Linked DNA regions of Homo sapiens: region 1 is linked to region 2. Evidence: fine-mapped QTL for protein levels in blood plasma. Region 2 holds a variant in brackets. A gene starts in the other region. All regions are shown on their reverse strands. Region 1 holds the start of ACY3 (aminoacylase 3). Region 2 overlaps CARINH (colitis associated IRF1 antisense regulator of intestinal homeostasis).

Evidence for each region. PIP is the chance, under the fine-mapping model, that this variant and not a neighbour inherited with it causes the effect. Protein levels are from antibody-based Olink assays in UK Biobank. Linkage for the fine-mapping came from a reference panel and not from the study's own genotypes, which makes the PIPs less certain.
Region 1: it holds the start of ACY3, and the variant in region 2 is fine-mapped to the plasma level of the ACY3 protein (UK Biobank, PIP 0.99).

The regions. Positions count from the first base shown.
Region 1 is chr11:67,647,786-67,657,338 of GRCh38, reverse strand. ACY3 (aminoacylase 3) reads left to right here and starts at 6,609. Exons shown (of 8, transcript NM_080658.2): 1 at 6,609-6,756. RefSeq lists enhancers at 6,328-6,387, 6,458-6,537, 8,268-8,687, 8,215-8,737, 9,148-9,227.
Region 2 is chr5:132,457,211-132,467,088 of GRCh38, reverse strand. The region is part of intron 3 of CARINH (colitis associated IRF1 antisense regulator of intestinal homeostasis); the gene reads right to left. Among named protein-coding and RNA genes, the nearest start is that of IRF1, 29 kb to the left of the region's middle. RefSeq lists enhancers at 208-587, 497-998, 1,184-2,148, 2,190-2,259, 2,149-3,113 and 2 more. The variant T/C (reference allele first, on the strand shown) is at 5,234.

The DNA of each region.
Region 1 (9,553 bases), not on the chromosome of region 2:
TTACTAAGAGTGAATTAATGTCTTAAGAAACTGCTGTTTTTTGTTTGTTTGTTTTTAAGACGGAGTCTCGTTCTGTCACCCAAGCTGAAGTGCAGTGGTGTGATCTCGGCTCACTGCAAGCTCCGTCTCCTGGGTTCACGCCATTCTCCTGCCTCAGCCTCCTGAGTAGCTGGGACTGCAGGTGCACGCCCCCAAGCCTGGGTAATATTTTGTATTTTTAGTAGAGACGGGGTTTCACCATGTTAGCCAGGTTGGTCTCAAATCTCCTGACCTCATGATCCACCTGCCTCGGCCTCCCAAAGTGCCTGGATTACAGGCATGAGCCACTGCGCTCAGCCGAAACCACTGTTGTTTTAACACAGGGGACCAAAATTGTAAGTTATGTATCATGTGTTTTAACATTCAAATTCATTCTCTAGAAAAACTGTTACAGGCCAGGCATGGTGGCTCATGCCTGTAATCCCAGCACGTTGGGAGGCCAGGATCACCTGAAGTCAGGAGTTCAAGACCAGCCTGGCCAACATGGTGAAACCCCATCTCTACTGAATATACGAAAATTAGCCAGGCATGGTAGTGCACGCCTGTAATCCCAGCTACTCAGGAGGCTGAGGCAGGAGACTCACTTGAACCCAGGAGATGCAAGTTGCAGTGTGGCAAGATCGAACCACTGCACTCCAGCCTTGGCAAATGAGCAAGACAGCCAGACTCCATCTCAAAAAAAAAAAAAACTATTACAAATCATTTCATTTAATTACAGCCAATTTAATCACACCCAACATTTCCATCATAAGTTCCCATTCACAAGCCTTATCATGACTTACTCAGACAGCTGTGGCATGCTTGGACTTGCCCTGTACTTCCTCTTTCTTAAATGTCTAGTCATTTTAGTCCAAGACAGAGATTGAACACACAAGTTTCTTTCCTATACAAAATTACTCTCATTGCTTCACATCTGTAATTTTCTTTACATCTCTGTCTCATCTACTTACTGGTTCCTTTTAATCTTTTTTCTATTTCTTTCCTAAATCCATATTTTAAAACTCCCTTTAAATAACAGCTAAATTAGACAAATTACTTTTTTTCTCAATAAAGAATATATTGTATACCTTTCTTACTGTTTTCTTATTAAGTGCTCCTTACTTTTGGCACACTTCCTATATAGAATTGTATATTAGGATTTTTAAAAACCCTTAGTACTCTTAAATTTTTGTTTTTAATTATCTTTTTTCTTTTTTTGAAACAAGGTCGTGCTCCATCACCCAGGCTGGAGTGCAGTGGCATTGATTTTGGCTTACTGGAGCCTTGACCTCCCTGGCTCAAGTGATCCTCCCACCTCAGCCTCCTGAGTAGCTGGGACTACAGTAGGCATGTGCCACCACCCCTGGCTAATTTTTTCTTTTTTGTTTTTCAGTAGAGACAGAGTTTCACTATGTTGCCCAGGCTGGTCTGAACCTCCTGATCTCAAACGATCCTCCTGCTTCAGCTTCCCAAAGTGCTGGAATTACAGGCATGAGCCACAGTGCCCATCCAGTTCCCTTAAATTTTGTTGAAAACATAGGAAGCACAAAATCTTGAACTTCCTATCACATATTGGTATTTTATGGGGAAGAGCCATTTTGTAATTGTTAGAAAAACATGTTTTCCTATAGCATAATTTTTATACGTATTTATAGGCCCAAACATATTTAGTCTTTATATTAAATTTAAGAGACCCAGGGCAAACATATTTATGGTCAGCAATTTGTTCCAGTTTTTGTCTTATTTGGAAATAACTCACATAGTTAATGAGTATCCATTACCTAATAGAGGATTTCAAATTACATTAAAAAGCCGATAGATACTTATCCCATTTACCTTTACATACTTTATTTATTTTTAGCAGTTTACCAGGATTACTTATGAGAACTGATATATTAGACAAAGCTAGTCATCATTTCAAATTATTTATCTGTTAATTACCTTTATATAGCTGGATGTCAGGCAACTATCATAAAAGTAAGAACCTTTAAGGCCGGATGCTGTGGCTCACGCCTGTAATCCCAGCACTTTAGGAGGCCGAGGTGGGCAGATCACGAGGTCAGGAGATCAAGACCATCCTGGCTAACACAGTGAAACCCCATCTCTACTAAAAAAAAAAAAAAAATACAAAAAATTAGCCGGGCGTGGTGGCAGGCGCCTGTAGTCCCAGCTACTCGGGAGGCTGAGGAAGGAGAATGGCGTGAACCCGGGAGGCAGAGCTTGCAGTGAGCCGAGATCACGCCACTGCACTCCAGCCTGGGCGACAGAGCGAGACTCCGTCTCAAAAAAAAAAAAAAAAAAGTAAGAACCTTTAAGTTACATTTCAGAAGGCACACCATTCCCATCAAACCAACAATTTTAGACTAGTTCCATTCACCAAAAGATTACTGTCATGTGAACTTGAAAAGCACTTGGTCTTATTTGCTTAGTTTATGAGTACTCATTTCTTTATAAGCCAATTCGGTACCATAGCCAAATATAACCGGACGTGTACATACTACCAGATACAAATAACGATCCTATAGCTTTAACTTTTAAAGGTTTAGCCATGGGTCAGGTAAAATTCACTACTTAAAAGACAGTTCCAACTCTGTCTCCGTCCAACTAACAATTTTAGCTAAAATTTATCTCTCCCATACAGCAGAAGCCCTTTCCTAAATTTTAGGAAGAACACGGTAGAAAGGAGACAGGCAAAAATTTGGCTCTAGTGTCGGAAAACCCGTGAGTCTCTCCCACAGCAATTGTTACCCGATCTAGGGGTTCCCAGATCATAGAGGAGTCCCCAAGTCCCATCACTTCTGGTCACTATTAGCAAACTGTAGCATCTGGTGGGCTGATTGACGGGGAAGTTTCTTTCCCTACCCACTGGGGACAGTTAGGACACTCTAGTACCCAATGGCCCTCTTGTTTACAATATGCACACTGTTGTGTTCTCAAGGGCGGGAGGCCCTTTGGCCGGGCAGTGGGGTCCCTAGGGATCTTACTTATGGCTGATCATCTCCAGTGAACTGTTTTGTTTTTTTGTTTTTTGTTTTTTTCAAGAAAGAGTTTTGCTCTTGTCGCACAGGCTAGAGTGCAATGGCGCGATATCAGCTTACAACCTTCGCTTCCTGGGTTGAAGCGATTCTCCTGCTTCAGCCTCCCGAGTAGTTGGGATTACAAGTGCCCACCACCATGCCTGGCTAATTTTTTATATTTTTAGTAGAGACAGGGTTAGCCATGTTGGCCACGCTGGTCTTGAACTCCTGACCTCAGGTGATCCTCCCGCCTCAGCCTCCCAAAGTGCTGGGATTACGGACATGAGCCACCACGCCTGGCCGCAGTGAACTGTTTCTTGTGTACTGGCTGGTTGTAGCCAAGAGACTCGATGGCTTCTTGTCTTGTGTTGCCTTTTTGTTTTTTGTTTTTTGTTTTTTTTTTGCCCTTCCTGGACCTGGCCACAGTTGCTCAATACCTTAAGGGTAATCTCAACCAATGGAGATGTCAGCATCCCCAGTGTCCCTTCTGCTTTTTGTAGTTTATCCGCATGGCTTCTGCCACTGGAGTCCTGCTACAATTACTGTTTTCCCATATTACCCACCCAGCAGCTTAGAGGCGGGATTGGTGGTGACACAGATCCCACAACTCTTGGCCCACACTCAACTAGTTTTAAAAATATATTGGTGGGGAGGGGCGGGCATGGTGGCTCATGCCTATAATCACCACGCTTTGGGAGGCCGAGGTGGGTGGATCACTTGAGCTTAGGAGTTCGAGACCAACCTAGGTAAGATGGTGAAACCCTGTCTCTATAATATTAGGTTGGTTCAAAAGTAACCGCTGTTTTTGCCATTGAAAGTAATGGCAAAAACTGCAATTACTTTTGTACCAATCTAATTTTTTAAAAATTAATTAATTAAAAAAAATTGGAAGGCATAGATTTCACTCGGCAAGGCAGGAAATCTTGTAACTGCTCTATACTGTGGCTCTGCCGACCGCCCGGCACTGCTCCAGCAGATGCAAACTGCCCGAGATTTTGATGAATTCACTGAAGGAAATAAAGACATTGTGTTTAAAAACACAGCAGAAAGGTTGGGTGTGGTGGCTTATGCCTGTAATCTCAGCACTTTAGGAGGCTGAAGGGGGTGGATCACTTGAGCTCAGGAGTTTGAGACCAGACTGGACAACATAGCAAGACCCCATCTCAAAAAAAAAATTAGCTGGGTGCGTGCCTGTAGTTTCAGCTACTTGGGAGGCTGAGATGGGAGGACTGCTTGAACCTGGAAGTTGGAGGTTGCAGTGAGCCACAGTCGAGCCACTGCACTCCAGCCTGGGTGACAGAGCCGGACCTTGTCTCAAAATTAAAAAAAAAAAAAACCCACTGCAGAAGACCTTCAGAATTGCTTGCCTCTAGAAACCATGCTTTCCTCAGAACATCTAACCCTTCAAAAACTACAGCAGCAGCCAGAACCCACCATTCACGCTGACGCATTCCTTTGTGATAAAGACTTCATTGATTCATTATGTGACAAAGGGAAAATGAGCAGAAACTACTGGGTGGTTCACACCAAACAGAACCTTTAGACCGATTGCTCGTTCCTTCTCCCTCATGGAATTGAAGTTCATTTATCTTCATGCACTCCCTGATCAATCAGGAAAGGCTGTGGCTGACGTCAGCTCCAGGCTCAGCACAGTCTTTATGGGGTGATCTTATAGCTTAGCAGTGCAACCCTGTGGAGTAGAACTGAACGGAGACTTTTGCCAGTTGCAGGAAATGGTCATTAAAAAATACCAGTTTATTCACAGAATAAAGGTGCTTCATGCAGACATCTGTCCCCAGGGTTTCTTCTGCAAAATGCTGATGCTGCTATCATGAATAATGTCTTCAAATATTCTCTTAATGAGGCAGAACAAGCCGGAGCTGGGAATACATTTGTCATAATGTAAGGAAGCAGATCATCATCAGTGACAGTGCCAAGTCTTGAAGATTCTCTCCTGGGTCTTCAGACTAATACACATTTATCTCCCTGGGTTGAAGAAGTACTGTGGGACTATGATGTATACCCACAAAAGGATATTGACAAAGAAGCTCTTTATTTATTTATTTATTTATTTATTTATTTATTTATTTATTTATTTTCTTTTGAGACAAGGTCTCACTGTGTTGTCTAGCCTGGAATGCAGCCATACGATAACGGCTCACTGTACTCACGGTACGATTACCTCCAACTCCCCGTGCTCAAGTGATTCTCCCGCCTCAGCCTCCTGAGTAGCTGGGGCCACAGCTGTGTGTGCCACCACCTGGCTAATTTTTTTTTTTTTTTTTTTTTGAGACAGAGTTTCGCTCTTGTCGCCCAGGCTGTAGTGCAATGGCATGATCTCGGCTCACTGCAACCTCTGCCTCATGCCTCAGCCTCCCAAGTAGCTGGGATTACAGGCACCCACCACCATGCCTGGATAAATTTTGTATTTTTAGTACAGACGGGGTTTTGCCATGTTGCCCAGGCTGGTCTTACACTCCTGACATCAGGTGATCCACTCGCCTCAGCCTCCCAAAGTGCTGGGATTATAGGTGTGAGCCACCGCGCCCACCCTAATTTTTTTTTTTTTTTTGGTAGAGACAGGGTCTCCCTATGTTGCCCAGGCTGGTCTTGAACACCTAGGCTCAAGCAATCTGCCCCCCTTGGCCTCCCAAAGTGTTGGGGTTACAGGTGTGAGCCACTGCACCCAGCTGACAAAGAAGCTCTTGAACAAATTCATTTAATGAGATTCTCTAGCACTAAAATAGTCCTACCTCATTGTAATGTTTTGTAGAGTATCTTATAAAACAATGAAAAAAAACCAGTATTTTAATACATATTTTTCTGTATATTTCCTTCTAGCCTTTGTACATATGATCACATATTTGTAAAAAGTTGTATGTATATATATACAACTTTACCCGCTTTGTGTGATGATATGACAAAAACATTTATCTGAAAAAAGTATTTTTTTCATCAAATGGCAGAGCTCCTGTTTCTGGTAACCCGGGGTATGGCAAGTAGGGGCTCTGGGAGATGGAGCAGCTCAGCCTCCTGTGAAAAATTCTGTTTCTCTAAAAAAGAACAAATTCTCATGCTGGGCGCGGTGGCTCACGCCTGTAATCTCAGCACTTTGGGAGGCCGAGGCGGGCGGATCACGAGGTCAAGAGATCGAGACCATCCTGGCTAACACGGTGAAACCCCGTCTCTACTAAAAATGCAAAAAATTAGCCGGGCGTGGTGGCGGGCGCCTGTGGTCCCAGCTACTCAGGAAGCTGAGGCAGGAGAATGGCGTGAACCCGGGAGGTGGAGCTTGCAGTGAGCCGAGATCGCGCCACTGCACCCCAGCTTGGGTGACAGAGCCAGACTCTGTCTCAAAAAAAAAAAAACGAATTCCCAAAACTAGTCCCACTGTTGTCTACCCAGATCCGGGATCCGGGTTGCCCTTGGCCTGGCCAGAGATGCCTCTCAATCCCCCACGGCACGTAGAGCCAGACAGAAACCGAAAGCAGAGGTGCCCTGCGCTGAAGTCTAGAGATCCCACTGCTAGGTCCAAAGAATTTACCCTTTCAGTCAACCCACGGGGCAAAGTCCACTTTCTTCCCTGAAGGAGCAGCACAGAACAAAAGCTCCAGGCAGCTGCTTCCGCTGTTTCGGGGGTAGGGCGGAGTGACAGCCCCACGGGCCACGCAGCAAGCAGAAGATCCCCGGGAGTCACCCTCAACCCTCTGGGGCCACGTGGGTGAGTTCGCCCGGGGAAGGTGCCGCGGCCCACTGCTTTACCTTAGTGAGCCTCAAGAAGTTAGGATCAGAATCCCAGTCGGCCCCATCTGGGTCGCCAGAGTTTTGTTACCCACACAACGGGTGGGCTCAGTTGCTTGGCGGGTGTTAACTAAAGAGGATTTAATAGGGGATTTTATTTCTTGCAACAAGTAAGGAGAACACCTAGACAGCTCCCAAAGCAGTGTCTCCCCGAGCTGAGGGCTGGGGCAGGTTTTATAAGCATAGGGTAATGAGGCGTGATCTGATTGCATCTTGCAATGAGGTGATGCTGGGAGGCATGATCTAATTGGATGCTGACACAGGGGGGAACCACAGCTCTGACCCCTCTCTGGGTCTCAGTTTCCCCAACTGCAGTGAGGAAATTGGCCCCCGTGATGATGCCCATGACATCACCATCCTCTGCCCTCACTCATGCTGGGGTCTCCATGTGCCCATTTTCAAGCTTGTGCCCGCCCTTTGTTCCTCACTCCCCACAGCTGCCCTTGGCCAGGACTTTCACAGGGTGGAGCCAAGGCCCAGAGAGGGCACTGAATCTCTCCAGGTCACACAGCCTGTCAGGGAGGTGGGGCCAGAGCCAGGTCACACGTGTGCACACAACACACACACACGCACACATGCTCACGCACATGCACGCACACACGCTCTCAAGCACATGCACACATGCACACACATGCACACACACTCTCATGCACACACGCACACATGTACACACACATGCATGCACACATGCACACAATACTCTCATGCACATGCACACACGTACACACGCACACATGCATGCTGTCACACATGCGCACACACGCACACATGCTCTCATGCACACACGCACACATGTACACATACATGCACACATGCACACAATACTCATGCACATGCACACACATGTACACACGCACGCACACACGCATGCTGTCACGTACACATGTGAGTGCACACACGCACACACATGCTCTCATGCACACGCACACATGTACAGATGCACACATGCATGCACACACATGCACACACGCGCACACACTGCCAGGACTGGGGGCTGCTGTTTCTGAGGGTTCCTGGACCCCGTTCTGTTCCATAAACACTCACTGAAATGCAGAAGCTGGACCCCAGCCAAGGGAAGTGAAACTTTCCAGCACCCCTACTGCTGTTCTCCCTAAACTTGGGGGCCCAGCACCTTGTGGCAGGAAGCACCCTGGCCCCCAGCAGCCCCCAAAATAGCTAGGTCTGCCACGGAGGCCCTTCCTTCCTGAGAGGTACCACACCGAGTCAGCAGGATCCCAGCCTCTGTGGGGGTTGGGGGGGCCTTCCAACAAAGACCATGGCCTGGGACTCATAAAGCAGCATGGGGGTCCCTGAGACCCCTACCCCAAGCAAGGAAGGAACAGACCCAGGCCGACAGGCTCCTCTGCTGACTCCCTCTCCCACCACCTGCCAAGGACTCAGTCAAGTCACCCAACCCCTAGAGCTTCAGTCCACACCTGCAAAATGGAGCCGGTGACAGCTGCCCCCAGGGCTGGGCCGGATACAGGAGTTGATGGCATGGCATGGCCCCCTAATGGCAGTCTCTGCCCTCCCTTTGCTGAGGCTCCAGGTGCCAGGAGGAGTGGCCCCTGGAGGGGGCTCATAGGGAGCCCCGGCCCACTGGGGGCTCAGCCTCACACTCCATCCACCCCTCTTGACACCCTGTCAAGATCCCAGCTGCCCTGATGGGAGCCAGGATGACAAATCCCCTGTCCCCACAATCGCCATGCTCTGAGCTCACGAAGCCTTGGGTGTGGAGGGCAGGAGAGCCCAGGCCACACAGAGCTGAGTGTGATCTGGGGCAGCTTCCGAGAGGGTGTAACTTAGAGGGTCCTGGCCACCCAGAGCCCCCCAGGCTGGTGGGCCTGGCATCTGGAGCAGGGCTGGACTGGCCCGGGGAGACCCAGTGTGGTGGTAAAGAAGGCCCAGGATCGATGCCTGGGGGAGGCTCCAGCTCAGGGTCCCAGCACCTGGCATCCAGCAGGCCCTGGCGGAGCAGCTTGCCTCACTCCCCAGTGACTTCGGAACTGGCCTCAGCTCCTCCCAGCAGACAGCTGAGCCTGGTGGGAGGTAGAGGCCCCAGGGCTGAGTGCAGGGGACCTCACCTTCATCCTTCCCCACTTTGCTCTTGAGAGGCAGCAGGAGGGGATGGAGCCACATTGGACGCACTGAGTGCCACCTACAGCCCGCCTCTAGGGCTCTGTGCGCCACCTGCAGCCCGCCTCTAGGGCTCTGTGTGCCGCTGAACAGTCTGCCCCTAGGGTTCTGTGGGCCACCTGCAGCCTGCCTCTAGGGCTTGTGTGCCTGCAGACAATTTTCTGAGCCTCAGTTTTCACATCTATAAAATGAGCCTGAGGGTTGTTCCCAAAACAGGGCAAACCGAGTCATCTGAGTTACACTGTCCTTGAAAATGACTGAAATCCCGGATCAAACATTTTAAAATTTTGCTTAAAGCAACAAAGAGCTGTAAAACTGGGGCTCCACATGGCACCTTTGGGTAAGGGCGACTCAGGAGTGACCACAGCCCTCTCCGGGCTGCAAGGACAGAGGCATGTTGCCGAGGTGGTGAAGGAGGGGCAGCTTGTCATCTTGGTGGCCATCAAGGTGACACCTCTATAGTAACTTTCAATAGCCTGCTCTGGTGGTGACCAAAACCAAGTCACCACCCCACTGCGGGTGTACCTCTTAGTAGTGTTAAGGAAGGTGGCCCCTCTGGGGCCCAGCAGAAGGACGAAGGG
Region 2 (9,878 bases):
AAGTTTCAGCTCAGCATCAGTGCTGGCCTTCAGGAGGCCGCATTGGCAGGCGGCAGCAGTGACAGCCAATGGGCAGCAAAGCTTGTTGCTAAGGTCACTGTGAGCCTTATTTGGTGACACAGGGCTGACCCTGCATTCACCTCTGAGAACCCTGGGAAACGCCAACCACAGATGTGAAATATGAACGTCTCAAAACCACAACTGCATTTCCTTTGAGAAAAGATTCGGCTGTCCTCCTCTCCAGCCTGCCTCCCTCCGCTGGATGTCTTTTGTACAATGGCTCACTACTGCAAGAGGCAAGAGCCTAGGCTACAAGAAGAGTCTGCTACAAGCTAGTCCTGGGCAGGCCTGGACAGGGAGAGGGCAGGGGCTGCTGTGCAGGCGGCCCCAGGACCTTCAAGGACCTCCAAGACTTCCGTTCACACCCAGCAGCTGCCAACCCCTGCCCAGGCCTCCCCCAACACAGCCGGAGGGCCTGTTCCTGGCCCCACTTCCTGCAGCCTTGGGAAGCCGGCTAGCTTGAGAAAGGCGTGTGGCACTCATGGAGGAAGTGGGCCGGCACTGGGGCTCTCACCATCTGCACCAGCCACACCGCTTCGGTGCAGCCTGGAGCTCAAACGGTTGGCGGTTTCAGTTTTTCACCTCCCTTTGGTGCATCTTCCAGCTTATCATTAAATAAGTAAAACTGTTGCTCCACCCCAGACAAATGTGGGAGGGAAGTTGTGTCTTCAATATTTCCCAAATAACACTCACTGCTCCCTCCCATTCATACAGCACCTTCGGGTCTGGGAGCTGTGCTCACATCTGCCATCTCATTACATCCTTGCAACCCTCGCAAAGGTAATGACTGAGCTCACACCATGTGTCAGGGACATGAATGAATTCACAGAATTCACTGTAATTGTCCCCATTTTACAGAAGAGAAAATGAGACAGAGAAATTCAGTCATTGGCTCAAGGTCATCACATAACTAGGATTTTCTCCCAGATGGCTGAGTTCCAAAGTCTGCCCTATTCTCTTCTGCTACATTGCCTCCATGGCACATACACAAGAACGAGTTCCATTTACTGATGAGAAAGTGAGGCTGAGGTGAAAGGGTGGTGTGGGGCCTGAGGTCAGCGTTGCTTCCTCAGTCCACATCTCCTCCCAGAGGATGGTCCACCAACGTCCTTCATCTGCCCTCCCCCTTTAAAAACCACTGTCAGCCCGGCACGGTGGCTCATGCCTGTAATCCCAGCACTTTGGGAGGCTGAGGTGGGTGGATCACCTGAGGTTGGGAGTTCGAGACTAGCCTGAGCAACATGGAGAAACCCCGTCTCTACTAAAAACACAAAAATTGGCTGGGTGTGATGGTGCATGCCTGCAATCCCAGCTACTCGGGAGGCTGAGGCAGGAGAATTACTTGAACCCAGGAGGCAGAGGTTGCGATGAGCCGAGATCACGCCATTGCACTCCAGCCTGGGCAACAAGAGTGAAACTCCATCTCAAAAAACAAACAAACAAACAAAAACACTGTCATGCCCCCACCGCCAGCTTGTCTCCCTTTCTTTTTAGGTGTGGCCCACAGAGCTCAGTGCCCTGCCTATCTGGAAGAGGCTGTGAAGCCCATCTATGTAGGTAACGGAGGCAAAGCAAGGGCTAGGGAGAGTGTGCCATGTGGGACACCTCCCCCTATCACCTCCCCACTGCCTGCACACACTGGGGACAGTCAAAGCATTCCTCAGGCTGGGGGTAGGAGCTGTGGGCGGAAGAGCTGGGGCATCTGTTCACAGAATCCTCCCCTGAAGTTGCTCGGAGGGGCTGGGATGCAGTCCAGACACTGGGGAGCCTGATGCAGACGCCTCCCTGGAGCACTGTCCTTCTCTTGGGCTCTTCAAGCCTGCCCTCACTCATGAACACATATTTTTTGTGTGTACTTCCTGCATGCCAGGCACTACCCAGGCACTGTGGATGCACAGTGAACAACACAGACCAGGTCCACGCGTCACAGACTTTACTTCCCTGAGGGAGGCAGACATTAGGCAAATAATCACATGGATCTCTGAAAAACATAGCTCCTACGAGAGGGTGCAACTTCAGGGGTCTTAACCTACAAAGGAGTGTGTGGGATTAGGGGGTTAGGGCAGCTGTTCTAAGGATGAGACATTTCAGGTGAGGAGAGGAATGGGGTGGAGTTGGCAGGGGGGCTGGTTCTCGGCTCTCCCCGACTGCCCTCCTTCCCCGCATTCCAGTCGCTTCAGGAAATCTGCCGCTTCCATGAGAGCTTCTTTGGTGGTGTCTTCCAAGCTGCTACCAAGCGATGGCTTTGCCAGCTGTTGCTTTCAGTGTTTGTGCCTGGGTGAGCACAGCCGGTATGAAATGGCCCAGATTAATCGAGAGCCAGGCCCCTCCTAAAGTACCTCTGAAAAGAGTTTTTCAGCATAAGCATGACATTAGCTTTTCCTAGAGAGGAAACCACCCCCGGGGCTGACAGCAAGCAGGCCAGGCTTAAAGGAAGCAAGTGCAGCGCTGGGGCCCCTCCATGCCCTGCTGCAGACAGGACACCCTCACTGCCTTCCCCCAACATGCTCCCCCACTCCCACTCCTGCTTCTTTCTCCCTGGGGGACTCTCCTTGTGGAAAAGAAACCCCAACAGTAGGGGGAGCGAGTGAAACTGGAAAATGAAACTGTGATTTCCAGTTTCATTTTCCAGTTTCAATTTAGAAGCAGCTCTGCCAGCTTTCCAGTGCCCGTGCCTCAGGGCATCACAGAGGAGCTGAGGGGCAGGAAAAAGTGTTCCAGCCAGCAAGCACCCTGCTCCCTGGGCACCCTCAGAGGGCAGGTACTGGACTGGTAGAACCCACTGAGCAGGGAGTTGTTGCAATGCCGATTCCTGGCTCTCCAGGCTCTGAGGCCGTACGTTTGGGCCCTTTGGTGATTCTGATGCAGGCTGTGGACCTCACCATGGCAGTCGTGGCCTCAGAGACCATCAGAACAGCTAGAGCACACCTGAGGCACGGCCTCATCCTCTCCAAGTCACTTCCTGCCACAGATGCTCGGGAAGTGCTGCTTCTCTGTGCAGCATCTCCTGCCCTCCTCCATCTGGTGTTGGAGGCATCTTAGATGTTCTCTGGGACCTGAGGTCTGTAGGAAACCCCGGCTGTGGACTTCACACAAGGGTCGCTCTTTCCCACACTCCAGGTTTCCCTTTAAGCTGCTAATTTGTAACAGGCATTCATAGAAACAGAATAAGATAGAGAAATTCTATTAAAGGACCTTATGTGCTTTTGCTCTGTCTGTTGCTCCATTTATTTGCAATTTATAGCCTAATCCAAGAGGATTTAAGGACAATTAAATATTTCTTTCCCCTCAGTGTGTGTGTGCGAGTGCACGTGTAAGAGTGTGTAGGGGTTGGGTCTTCCAATGTACCTTTGCCCTGGTTTGACCGTGGGGGGAGAGGGTGGGCAGGTCTCCAGGCCTGCCAGATGTAGACCTTTCCTAATGTCTACAGCAAATTTGTTCTTCAGTGTTTCTAGTATCAGTTTTTGATCAATCATTAATCAAAGTTGCAATAAAAAGATAATCTTCTCAGGACTAGGCTATAAAGGTCCTGGCTGCAACCTTAAAAAACCCTTCTGTGGAGGCCTCAGAGCCAAGAGAAAAGGGCGATGTGTCTGTGGCTGGATTTGGAGGTAAATGAACGTGCTGTCCCTCTCTAATTGGTGTGCACGAACATGAACTTCAGTCACTTGCGTGGCTATGGCCTCTTTCTTCATCTCTCCCTGCCAGTGAAGCTGGTGGTGCCCTGGCTCCCAAGCCAGGTGGCAAAGCTGGGGAAGGAGGCTGTAGTTGGGCCCAAATATGGGGGTCTGGGGGCACCTCCACAGGTTGTGACCACTGCAGCATGCTCTGGGGCCAGGCCTATGGCAGTGGAGGCAGGACAGCCCCCAGGACCACAGAGCCCCCATAGTGGAGGGAGCCACTACTTGGGCGGCTCAGCTCATTCCTGCTGACTTGCTGCTGTACAGGGCAGAGGGGTGCCTGAGACAAAGAGGAGACACACTTCTCCCACGAGAAATAAAGCAAGCAGCTGTTCCTCTCTTGGGCCCAGCAGGGGTCAGAGGCTGTGGGACCTTCACTCCTTCCCTCTCAGTGGAGAGGGCAGATCTGCTCTTTGGGGTGTGAGGGCACAGCCTCCTGACAAGCTGGAGAAGCAGGATTTAAGAGCTAGAATCAACGGAGAATGTGAGGCCCAGCATCAGGTTCAAGAAGCAAGGGGATCAAGGTTGGGGGGGAGGCAGGGAGCCTGAGCCTGGCGCAGCCCAGACCAACAGACTGAGGAGTCCAGAGAGCCAACATGCTCACTCGGCCATCGCTAAGATGTGTAGTGTGTGAGAAGGTGTGAGAGGTACTCGCGTTTCTCTCTCCAACCCCTTCCAACATATTATTGGGTCGTGGGTGCCATGTTTTTAGTAGACACATAAAATAAATGAGTATTTTCAGAGAAGTGCAACCCTGGAGGTGCAGGGGAGTGAACTCAGCCATGAGAAATCATTCAAAGGATTGACCTATGGAACAGGGATAGACTTGCTCTCCATGGCTCCAGCAGGGAAGCAGCAGAGAGGGGAACCTTTCCTGAAAGTCCAGTGTGACATCTGAAGACACACACACACACACACACACACTTTTTTGAGAGAGAGAACGAGAATGAAAAGATACACACTGATCTTTCAACAGTCGTTGTCTCTACCTGGTGATTGCGAATGATTTTAATTTTTTTCCTCTTGTGCTTACAGTATTTTCTAAAATCTCTAAAATACACCCAAATTACTTTCTTGTTATGGCAAAATAGACATAAAATGTCTACATCCATTTTAACCATTTTTAAGTGCAGAGTTCCATAGTATGAAGTACATTCTCACTGTTGTGCAGCCATCACCACCATCCATCTCCAGAACTTTTTCATCACCCTCAACATAAACTCTGCATCCACTAAGCAGTATCTCCCTGTTCTTCCTCCTTCCAGCCCCTGGCAACCATCCTTCTACTTTCTGTCTCTATGAATTTCACTATTCTAGGTACCTCATATAAGTGGGATCATCTGGTATTTTTCCTTCTGTGTCTGGCTTATTTCACTTAGCATAATGTTTTTAAGGTTCATCTATGTTATAACATGTACCAGAATTTCATTCCTTTTTAAAGCTGAATTATGTTCCATTGTACATATTCACCATATTTTGTTTATCCACTCCTC[T/C]TGTCATGGACATCTGGGTTGTTTCCACCTTTTGGCTATTGTGAATAATACTGCTACAAACACTGGTGTACAAATATCACTTTGAGTCCCTGCTTTCAATTCTTTTGGGTATATTCCTAGAAGTGGAACTGCGGGATCATATGATAACTAAGTTTTTGAGGAACCACCACATTGTTTTCAACAAAGGCTGCATGATTTTACGTTCCCAATAGCAATGCACAAGGGTATCTATTTCTTCACATCCTTGCCAACACTTATTTTCAGGTTGTTTTTGTTGTTTTAAAATAGCCATCCTAACAGATGTGAAGTGGTATCTTACTTATTATGGTTTTCATTTGCATTTCCCTAATCTAAATTACGTTTTAAAATCCAATCCTCTCTGAATTGAACCCTTTGTTCTTTATTTCTCAATAAAATGGACCTTGCCCCCTTTTTTTCCTTCTTTGTACCTATGCTCTGCATTTTAAAAAATTGTGGCAAAATACATATAACTTAAAACTTTACCATCTTAACCATTTTCAAGTGTAGAGTTCAGTATTAAGTATATTCACATTGTTGTGCCCTAACCCAAATATAGTATATAATGGCAAAAAGAAACAAAAGGCTCTCTAAAGAAAAAGAAAGCCGTGAATTCTTGGACCCCAGAGATGTTCACAAACAGATTGGATCAATCTCAGCAGGGACTTTCATTCATCTTCTGAGCATCTCTGCTGGGCTGGGCTCTGTGCCAGGCAGGGGTCTCCGTGGTGAGTGTGGCCTGGACTCTGCCCTTGGGGTTCAGCCTCTGTGGGGAACAGTTATACCCAAGGGCTGCTGTGGGCACAGAGGGACACCCTGTTGTGTGGGTGCGGCATTGGGAAGGGGCATAAGTGAGGTGGCACATGAGTTCAGGTGGGAAGGATGAGCAGACATGTACATGTGCAGAGAAGGGAACTGGCGTGTGTGGCTGGGCTGTGGCAGCACACCTCACAACCACCATTACAGGAGCATCTATTAATCATTTATGTCTGTCTCTCTACTTGATTATAAGCTGCATGAGAGCAGGGCTGATGGTTTTGTTCACTGCTGCATTGCTGCCATGCCCAGCACAGGCAAGTGTAAAAGAAACACTTGCTGAATAAATGAGTGGTTGATGACGAGGAAAAAGGAGACATTTCTTTCCAGAATCTTGGCTGTAAGCAGCAGACAGCATGGCTGTACTCCACGGGGAAGGCAGGATGGCAGGAAGCATTATACAGGTGATGGAGACAGGAGCACAGCAGGAGCCAGTGGAGAAGAAGAGTTTGAAGATTCCCTGGTTGAGAGAATGGAAGGGCGTAATTGCTGGGGAGAGGTCCCTGAAGAAAGGGGAGAGGCTGGGATGCAGGCTCAGTGGAAGGAGAGGAGTCTCCTTATGAGACTCAGATGGCCAGTGTGAAAAAGACAGAAGATACCAACTGCTGGTAAGAATGGGAAGCACACTGCATGGGGAACTCTCCTACACTGCTGGAGGCGTGTTCTTCCTGTTATTCTAGATTCAGACAGCACTCTGGTCGCTGGTTGGTGCAGGCCACCATTTGGGCCAATTAGAGGAACCCCAATATCTGCACTTGGACTATCAGAAATGAGAGCTCTACGCCCAGAGCAATTTCCAAGATGGGCCTGAATCCATGAGTCATGGCACTACATGGAGCCCAGGGTTGGCTCTGAGCCTAACAGCCTCCAAAATGTCAACTTTGTTCACGTGCCACTTTGTCCCTCATCTCATGCCATGCAGCTGGCAGGACTTCAGTTGACAGAAGGTAGACCCTGCTCTTTTCAAAAAGCACACAGGACAGGTGCTGATAGGCCAGCCCCTCCCACTGAGCTCTAGTTACTGCGGTGAACTTCACCAGGAGGTTCAGCGCCCACTGTGGCTCTGCCTGAGGGGCCTCTGTGCACACTCAGTCCAGGCACTAGCATCCCAGCGCCTGGCCAGTGGTCCAACTCCAGACTCACTACACAGAGCCCCTTGCAACCGATGTGTGCCAACATGGAGCCCACACAGGGCAGCTCAGCGTGACACCTGCACAGCTCAAGACTGAGGGAAGGAAATGCATCTTCTTTCTCAAGTTGGAAGAGGCTGTACTGAATTACCAAATGGCATTATACTCTCTGTGGGGGAGCACAGATGAGTGTCCGGCAGTCCCTGGGATGATGTTACAGTCCAGAGGTGGGGATGAGATGAGCCCAGATGATGCAATGGGGATGCAATCAAGACACGATGTCATTAGAAGCCACAGTGTGTTCTCTCATGCCACGTGTTTCCCAGCTTAGAGGAGTAAGGGGTCGGGGGGGGGAGTGGCCCCCTGGGACCCTGCTCTAGGACGCATGCATAAGGACCCACATGCAAACGCACAGAATTCAAGAGCTAGCCAGGCCTGGACCCATGTAGGAGAGCCCCACTGGCTGATTTCCAATCTGGGACAAAGGCCACAGACAGGAGGCCTCCCTTGGCCACACCCAGGTCCCCAGAACATATGCTCCACTGTCCCCAGTCTAACCACAACCCCATATGAGCTGTGTCCCATTCATGTTGGCCTAGAAACTGGGAAGTACCTGGCATGGGGCCCTCCGCTTCCTCCCCATGACTGCCTGGAGCTCTGGGGAGACCACCAAGGGGCCATTTTTGTGGTTAGGAAATGTCTGTGGCAGCTGTGGACACCACAGGCCCTCCCTGGACCCTTCTGAAGTAGAGGTCACATTCCTAAAGATTCTTAACTGCCAGCTCCAATTGCTTCTTCCTGACAGGCTCATCTTAGTAGGGAGTGAATATAATCTTTTCCCAGTTCCACGAGGTCCTCTCAGATCCAAAATGCTCTAAGTTCAAAGGCAAATCATGAAGAAAGGGAGACGCAGATACTAATTTGTGGTTTTAGTTCAGTGGTTTTCCACCTTGGCTACACAGTAGAGTTACCTAAGGAGCTTTTTAAAAATACTCATGTCCAAATATTCCAACAGGCACTTTGCAAAGAGAAGATCTAAATGGCTAACAAACATATGAAAGGTTGCTCAGCTGTATTAGTCATCAGGGAAATGCAAATTCAAACCACACTGTGATACCACTACATACCTGCCAGAATGGCTAACATGAAAAAGATAGAAAATATCTATGGTTGGCAAAAATGTGAAGCAACCAGAACTCTCATACATTGCTGGAGGGAGTGTAAATGGGTACAGCCACCTGGGAACATTATTTGGCATAAGGTACTAAAGCTGAACATACTCATACCCATGCTTCCCCAGCAATGGATATACATGTACTCCAAAAATACACACTAGCATGTCATTGCAATAGTCAGAATAGTTCCGAATTATAAATAACAACTCGAATATCCAAAAATGCATCACAGTAGAATGGATAAATCGAGGAATATCCATAGAGTGGAATACTCTATAGCAAGAAGAGTGAATAAACTGCAGCTCTAAGTAACAACTTGGATGAATCATCTCACAAACACAACAAGAGGATATATACTGCCTGATTCCATTTACATCATATAAAGTTTGAAAACAGGAGAAATGACTGTACACCATTAGAAGCCAGAATGGACATTAGCCTTTGGAGCCAGGTAGTAAGTGGAAGGGGTACCAGGGGTTGCTGGTGATGTTCTGTTTCATGATTTGGATGCTGGTTACTCGGGGTAAATTCATTTTGTGAAAATTCACTGAGCTTTACACTTATGGTTTGTGCTTTTTTTTTTTTTTTTGCATGTATGTCATCCTTCAACAAACACTTAAAAAATGTTTGAAAACCCCATCAATTCAGTCAGACTCTTTGGGTGGGAGCAAGATCCAGGCATCAGTATTTTTTAATATCCCAGATGATGGTAATATGCAGCCAGGATTTAAAGTCACTGGTTTAATATCTTGGGAAAAGCAGATCCACTCAAGACCTCACAGGGTCCTGACAAAGGCCACTTCCAGCTCAGTGGAGTGAGACACTGGGGTGGGAAGATGTCCATTTTTTGGATGTGGGTCAGTCTCTTGCACAGGCAGAGGTATTGCAGCATGCTGTTGTAATGTGTATCTTCCTTGGCAGTGTCTGTTGAAAGCTGGTTGCATCAGTTTGTAATGGGGTGTAATGGCAACAAGGTGGGCCCAGCCCCCCCCAGGAAGTGGATCACTGAGCACAGCTTCTACAGGGCCATTTGTAGAGAGGTGGCAGCTGGGCTTCCCAGGGGCTGCCACCCAGGGCAGAGCCAGTGCTGAGGCTCTGACAACCTCGGCAGGGTGGGGAGAAGGCCAGACTCAGGGTGTTTATGTTTGTGGGTAATGACAGTCAGCTCTGGGCTCCAGATGATGCTTACTCCCTGGCCTCTGTGTTCAGATTAGGAACTTGCAACATCTTGCTGAGGACCATGTCAGGCTCAGCTCTAAGTGCTGTGGCTGAGAATTTTCCTTCCTCTCTGTGTGGTTAGTGGCAGCCTCCCTAGCAATGGCTGACCTCTAGCATACTCTGTCAAACTACAGGCAGCTGGGACAAGACAGGACATGGGGCTCACAGACAGGTATTCCACAACCTGGGCCCTGTCAACCCTCCCAGAAATGCATGGGCCATGAACCTCCTGCTGTGGGAGGGGCAGTGCAGAGAAGTCTCAATAAGCTTCTCTTGGCCCTCTGGGAT